Linked DNA regions of Homo sapiens. The protein of the gene in region 2 purifies or fractionates together with the protein of the main gene of each other region. This does not show direct contact. Each region holds a gene or a part of one and is shown on either strand. Other genes may lie near its edges.

Region 1 (3,811 bases), on a different chromosome or scaffold from region 2:
GGAAGACAGACTCTGTCTTTGAAAAGATGATCTTGGGCTTCCAGGCATACTCCTGGGTGGACCAGATAGTTCCCACTTTGCTGTCTGAGTCCACTAGGATTTGGCACTGGAGACTTAACTCATCAGAATAATAAAGCCCCAGCACCTGAGCGGCTCCCACCTCCCGCTCCACACACAACCTCAGGCAGTGCTCCTGCTGCATGGGCAGAAGCTGATTTCAGAAATTCGCCAAGATCTTGGAGTCATTTGGGATCAGTTTGAAGATACGGTGTTTACTATCACACTGGAAAGCTCATCTGGGTGCTTTTATGTTAAGAAAAAGTGTTACATGGCTGGGCACAGCGGCTCACACCTATCATCCCAGCGCTTTGGGAGGCTGAGGCAGGAGGACTGCTTGAGCCCAGGAGTTCAGGACCACCCTGGGCAACAGAGCAAGATCTCATCTCTATCAAAAATAAAAAAAAATTAGCCAGGGGTGGTGGTGCGTGTCTGTAGTCCCAGCTACTCACGAGGCTGAGGTGGGAGGATCACCTGAACCCAAGAGGTAGAGGCTTCAGTGAGCCATGATGGTGCCACTGCACACCAGCCTGGGCGACAGAGCGAGACCCTGTCTCAAAAACAAAAAAAAGTGGACATAGTTGTGAATGTGGGAGCTTGCTGCCTAGTTCCTATTTCTTGGGAAAGTGGCCTCCAGGCTACTCATATTAGTTTGAAGAGAGTGATCAGAGTGTGCCCGTGAGGGCTGTGCTTCCCCTGAGCCCCGGAGCTCCTGAGTGGCTTGGTGAATGGTGAACCCACCTGCTGTGGAGTCGGGGCTTTTTAAGCTGGAAACGGGGCGCTCAGGTGCCCGTGACGTTTTTCGTGCTGAAGAGGAAATTCGATGTCTTTGCTGGTGTGGAAAGTCTTGGGTTTTCTTCCTCTTCCGCCCCCGTGCTTCTGTGTTCCCTTTAGAAACGGAGGGAGGGCACTGTTGGTTTCTGTAGATTGGGGCTGAGTCTCTTCTGTCTCCAGGTCTGTGTGCCCACTCCCCCCAGGTGGAGGGGACCGAGAACGTGGGGCTGGGGGCTTTTCAGGATAGAGACAGAGGACCTCAGGGCCCTGCCCTATGCATTGTGTGTCTGTGCTGTGACCATGATCAAGCTATTCTGGTCTCCAGGCCTCAGTTTCCCCATCAATTAAATACAAGGGGGTTGGACTAGATTATTAAAACAGCTATTTCTTTTTTTTGTTTGTTTTTGAGACGGAGTCTCGCTCTGTCGCCCAGGCTGGAGGGCAGTGGTGTGATCTCGGCTCACTGCAACCTCTGCCTCCCGGGTTCAAGCGATTCTCCTGCCTCAGCCTCCCCAGTAGCTGGGATTACAGGTGTGCACCACCACACCCGGCTAATTTTTGTATTTTTAGTAGAGATGGGGTTTCACCGTGTTGGCCGGGCTGGTCTCAAACTCCTGACCTCAAGTGATCCGCCAGCCTCGGCCTCCCAAAGTGCTGGGATTACAGGCACGAGCCTCTGTGCCCAGCCAAAGGAGCTGTTTCTGTAATCTGCTGACCCTTTCCCCCAAGCTCAGTGTGCAAAGCATAAAAGCCATTCTTGTCACAGGGACCCAGAACCTTCCCACATTCCACTCCCTCTTCAGCAGGTGGCTGTTGGCGGGGTGCCCAGAGTGCCCTGGGGCTCTGCAGAGCTCAGGATGAGCATCACTCATGAGGTGATTTCCAAGGTTTTTTCTGATTCAGCCCTGGATGCCGCATTTCCACCTTGAAGAGGGAGAGAAGGTTGAGGCTTCTGGTGCAGTAGGAGTTTATGGCTTGAGGTTCTGCCCAGCTCTGTGACTCTTGGACATCTCATGAGTTGTGTTTTGGGACTGTGATGTCTGGAGAAGTGCTGTTTCCTGAATCTCTCTCACTGTCCTTGGTTGTAGTGAAATTGAGCTTTTACATGAAACAAACCTCGAGGCCTTTCATTTGATGCAGCAGAAGTTCCATCTCACCCTTGCTGTTCAGTCGGGGGCAGCGAGGACCGTTTTTCCTAAGTCTGCTTGTACTTACACCAGTTATACTCTCCCCAGACCTATTAGGAGCTGAAGGTAGCCATATCCCAGCAAGACACGTGAGACTCGGAGTAGGGTCTGTGTTTTCCATGGTGACGGGATCTTCGCCTTGGTTAAAGGCGCATGCATTAATGGTTTAGGGCACATTTGTCCAACCTGTGGCCCACAGGCTGCGTGTGGCCCAGGACAGCTTTGAATGTGGCCTAACACAAATCCGTAAACTTGGTTGGGTGCAGTGGCTCATGCCTGTAATCTTAGCACTTTGGGAGGCTGAGATGGGCAGATCACCTGAGGTCAGGAGTTTGAGACCAGCCTGGCCAACATGGTGAAACCCCATCTCTACTAAAAATACAAACATTAGCCAGGCGTGGTGGCGGGCACCTGTAATCTCAGCTACTCGGGAGGCTGAGGCAGGAGAGAATCGCTTGAACCTGGGAGGCGGAGGTTGCAGTGAGCTGAGATCATGCCACTGCACTCCAGCCTGGGTAACAGAGCAAGACTCTGTCTCAAAAAAAAAGCCAAATCTGTAAACTTTCTGAAAACATTATGAGATTTACACACAGACCTACCTACCTTCCTTCCTTCCTCTCTCTCTCTTTCTTTCTCTCTCTCTTTCTTTTTTCCTTTTTTGTTTTTTTTAGTTCATCAGCTATCATAGTGTTAGCGTATTTTATGTGTGGCTCAAGACAATTCTTCTTCTTCCAATGTGGCCCTGGGAAGCCAAAACATTGGACACCCCTGGTTTAGGGCCTTGTGCAGCACTGAACCACAGATGGGACTTGGTGACAAATGACACGAACAGAGGGACCCCTGAACTCCCCCTCTTCTGCTGGGCCAGGGAATAAGCCTACATTCTCCTGAGCCCCTGCCTGGTCAGGTGGGAGCTGGGCACCTGCGGTCAGCTGGCGTTTTCTCTCTAGAGTTTTAGAAACTCTTAACACACCTCTTCTCCTGGCACATTTTACTGGCTGGAATCCCAGCTGCTTTGGGTGTGGGGTTGGTGGCCGGGGAGCCTCCGGGTTCAGTCGGCCTGAGGTCTGGAGGGTGGAAGGGGTATCTTAGGGTCCCCTGGGGTGCAGCAGGGCCTGGGCGGCACCCCTGGCTCCCATTCCAGGGCTGTGTCCCGTAAAACTCGTTCCATCCACTTCTGCCTGCCCCGTCTCCTGCTGAGCTTGACGTGCAGTGCGTGGGGTGAGCTTTTCACCCCCTACCACGGGTGGAGCCCGAGGAATCGTGGAGGGAGCTTGGTCTCCCCGAGGTGCTCAGTGAGCTGTGGGGACTGAGGGCGTGAGCTGTGGGGACCGGAGCCCTTCAGGGCCCGGGTGTGACTGAAGGCGTCAGTGTCGGGGGTTTCCCCAGGATACCTGCCATCGGCCTGGCTTGGTTGCGGTTGTGGCTGGGGGGTCTGTGGTGAGCTGTGCAGGTCAGGGGTGGATGGGCTGCCGCTTCCGCTGCCTTCCCCAGACCCCTGCTGTCTCCAGAGCTTGGATGCTCCCCTCAGTGGCAGCTGGAGCCCAGGGCTTTGGACCGACTCTTCATACCGCAGATGCCTCTGAGCACCGTGTGTTCGGGCCGTGTGCACTGTGCCTGGCCTGCGCCCCCACCGAGGGCTGCTACTGGTGTAAGCCGGGGAGGCCGAGGCAGCGTCTGGGTGGGGTTCGCCCGTGGGGGCTGCTTCGTGTCCCCAGGTGCTGTGGTGACTCTGGGAGCAGGGCATCCCTCTGCCGTGATGGGGCCCCTGTTCCACTCCAGGGCTGCCCGCC
Region 2 (3,664 bases):
GGTACCATGTAATTCACAGCATACATCGATTTGTGTATCTGTTAAGCCCTATTCCTGCAGATGGCAGGTACGTGAGTTGAAGACAGTGAGCTATATGGGCTGTCAGTGGTGTCAGACACAGTCTATACCTTCAAGGAGCTCATTGTCCAGCCAATGGTTGGGATTCAAAAACTAGGTGACTCTGGACATCCTAGACTAGAAGGTGGGAGAGGTTTCCTCTCTTTCCCTTTTAAGAACAGGCTGCACAGGGTTAGATAAGATTAGAAAATAAATTTGGTGTACTCTAGTCTTTTGACTATCATTGCTAGCTCATGATATAACAGAAAAATCTATTCCTTTGTTACCGCCTCCCACCAACTCCCAGAACCGGAGATCTTCCACCAACTCCCAGGACAGAGAACATCTCTCCTGTGGCCTTATACTCAATTGCCTCCAATTAGAATAAGTCTTTTTCTGCTCATTATTCTTAGTAGAAAAACAAAAACAAAAAACCAAGTTAATTTTGAAAGACAGCATCTCTTCCCAGTCTCCCCAGAATGTGCCCTGGGGCAAAGCTGGCTGTGCAGCAAAGCCCAGCTTAGATTCAGGCATTGTGCTCTGGGATTTATGGTCTCAGGACCCCAGCCCCAGCCTCGACCCCAGCCTCTGATATCCCTTCTCTATGTCTGAGACGACTTCCCTGTAGCACAATAACACACCCCATGCTCCAGCAGTGCCAATTTCACACATATTATTTTATTACTCATTTGTTTGCTTTCCAGGGCAAGTGAAAAAATAATTTAAACCAATTGTATGTACAGAGGCTTGATTAGTTTTCCCAAGAACTTCCAGAAAGTCTCCCAGCCCTGTAGACAGCAAAGCGTATTACCTTTAACATCTATACAAAAGTCCACCTATAAAAGTCTCATGTGTAGAAAGGTTTTCTTTATTATAAGCATCACATTTTGGGGACAGGAAGGGGGTCAGGGTGGGAGGTGGAGGAAAGTGCAGGGTGGGGGTCCACACACACCTGCCCAGGGGTCATCCTGGGTGGGGAGGCTGTGGCTGGTGGGGCTCAGGTGATCTGCAGCGGGGTCTCCAACATCTCCATGAGGAAGGTGTCAATGGGGGTGTCCCCGATGAGCTTGAAGAAGAAGAGGTGCTCCAGGCATTTCAAGCCAATGGAACGCAGAGCTGGGAGGCGCAGCAGCAGCTTGGCAAACCTGCAGGGAAGCCAAGAGGCATCAGGGACAGGGACGGGCAGGCACTGCACACCTGCACCTGCTGGCAGGAGGCCGTCCAATTGGCCTTCTCGACCCATCTGTGATAAAAGAGCTGGAAGGGTAGACAAGGGGGTCACAGAATCTCTAAGCCTAAAGAGCTTCAGAAACAGGCTGGAGGGCTTGTCAGCCTTAACAGAAGCTGGAGCGCATGACCCTTCAAGAATCTTGAATTCTGTAGCCATGTCCCAGGACTGCCCTCAGCTCCCCTCATTCACAGTGGAGAAGAGGAAGAACTAGATGACTGTGTCCACTCACTTTGCCAGCCATACTGGCTCCTCACATTCTCTGTGTCCCTCGGGTACCCGCACAGATCTGCTGAGGCACTTAGAGCCAAGCGTGAGACACTGAATGTGCTCAACCCATGGTAGCTGTCACCATTAGATGACACGTTTGAGAACCTTACTCTAGCCATCATGCCATCAATTTGCTTTAGTTTCCAGCCCCCACAAAAAATCTTTTTAAGAATGGGTTCTCACCATGTTACTCAGGTTGGACCTGAGTACCTAGGCTCAAGCAATCCTCTCACCTCAGCCTCCCAAGTAGGCGGGACTACAGGCACATGCCTTGGGGTCCACAGTCACCAAATTTTTGTTGCCAATTTGTAACCAATTGTTACCAATTTTTTTTTTTTGAGACCGAGTTTCACTCTTGTTGCCCAGGCTGGAGTGCAATGGCCCAGTCTCAGCTCACTGCAACCTCTGCCTTCCGGGTTCAAGCAATTCTCCTGCCTCAGCCTCCCAAGTAGCTGCGAATACAGGCTCCCACCACAATGCCTGGCTAAATTTTTGTAGTTTTAGTAGAGACAGGTCTTTGCCATGTTGGCCAGGCTGGTCTTGAATTCCTGACCTCAGGTGATCCACCCACCTCAGCCTCCCAAAGTGCTGGGATTACAGGCGTGAGCCACCGCACCCGGCCAATTGTTACCAATTTTTATGATCAACTTATTAGTCTATGCTTACCCTTAAATTAGGAAAAGAGAAAATCATAGTCTCTGCCCTTGAGGAGTCTATGGTCTGTTTGGGGAGAGGATACATGGCACACATGCATACACACTGACCCACACATTATCCTACACACTCACACATGCTTCACACCCATGTGCCCGCACACACATCCTCACCACTCACACACGCACACTCACACTCTTTTACACTGTCACATTCCCTTGCATACATGCACTTACACACACACCCTCACACATACACACATGCCCACTCATGCACACTTTCACATGAACTCACATGTGCCTGCACACACACCTTCACACACACTCATGCACACACACCTTCACACACTCTCATGCATACACACCTTCACACATACTTCACATGTTTGCACACGCATCCACACACTCATGCTCTCACACTATATTCATGCACATTATACACAATACACATACTCACACATGTGCACACACTCATTCTCACATATCTCATGCCTGTGGTCTCACATACATGCACATGCACACTCTTACACACACGTGCATGCATGCACTCACACATACACACATGCAGACACACTCCACACTCACACTCTAACATGTTCTTACAACATGCACACACACATACCCTCACACACTCACTCATACACACCCTCACACACATTTTTCTATAACTGAGGACATTTGTTGTGAGATTCACAAAAGGGAGAAAGACCAGTGTGTGAAGGAATTCATCTCCCATCTGCATGTCCTTTCGGGTACTTCTCTCTGTGACATTTTTCACTCTGTCTGTGTGACCCTCTGTGCACAGTGCAATGCCAGCTCATTTTTAACGTTATTAATGCTACTAGACATAAAGTCACTCTACTCACAACTTCCAAAAAAAGCTCAAGGACCAAAATCACTTTAGTCACTGTGGCCCTAAGTCAGAGATTTCTGGTTCCAGATGAATCTTTACTGAGTGTCACAACATTATTTCATGAAAAAGTTACAAATTAGAATTTCAATGTTCCTTGAAAATGTGTATATTTCTACACTTATGCCATAAGACATTTTAAAGAAATGTAGCAATACAAGGAAAATAAAGCGGCACCATCTAAAAAAGTAGAAATTGCTTCCCTACATGGAAAAATTAAAGATCTATGCCAATGCTACACATTACTTCAAAAGCCTCCAGTGGTAAAGCCCCTGAAAGCATTTGAGTGGCATCACCATTCAGGAAAGAGGTAGTTAGAGAATAAGGAGGCTGAACTCCCGGCCGTGCCTCTGCCGTTAAGCTTTATGGAAGTAGGCAAAGGAAACAGCTTCTCTGTAAGTACAAAGTTAGACTGGGATTAACTTTAAAAAATTTTTTTAACTCTAAAAAGGCCACGATTTTACAATATCTAAAATTCGAAGTATGCCATCATACTACCCTCTTTGTTGTGTGACCTGGATTTAGGAACTGAGATCAAGGCTAATA

What was found.
Region 1: the proteins of RXRG (region 2) and SNX8 purify together in Homo sapiens (affinity purification with mass spectrometry; one large-scale study listed by BioGRID and IntAct). This does not show direct contact.

Annotation. Positions count from the first base shown.
Region 1 is NC_000007.14:2,258,859-2,262,669, reverse strand, and holds part of SNX8 (sorting nexin-8), read left to right. Parts: intron 1-3,811. UniProt on the Homo sapiens protein: May be involved in several stages of intracellular trafficking. May play a role in intracellular protein transport from early endosomes to the trans-Golgi network.
Region 2 is NC_000001.11:165,400,209-165,403,872, forward strand, and holds the end of RXRG (retinoic acid receptor RXR-gamma), read right to left. Parts: intron 1,203-3,664; coding exon 1,055-1,202; 3' UTR 714-1,054; downstream 1-713. UniProt on the Homo sapiens protein: Receptor for retinoic acid. Retinoic acid receptors bind as heterodimers to their target response elements in response to their ligands, all-trans or 9-cis retinoic acid, and regulate gene expression in various biological processes.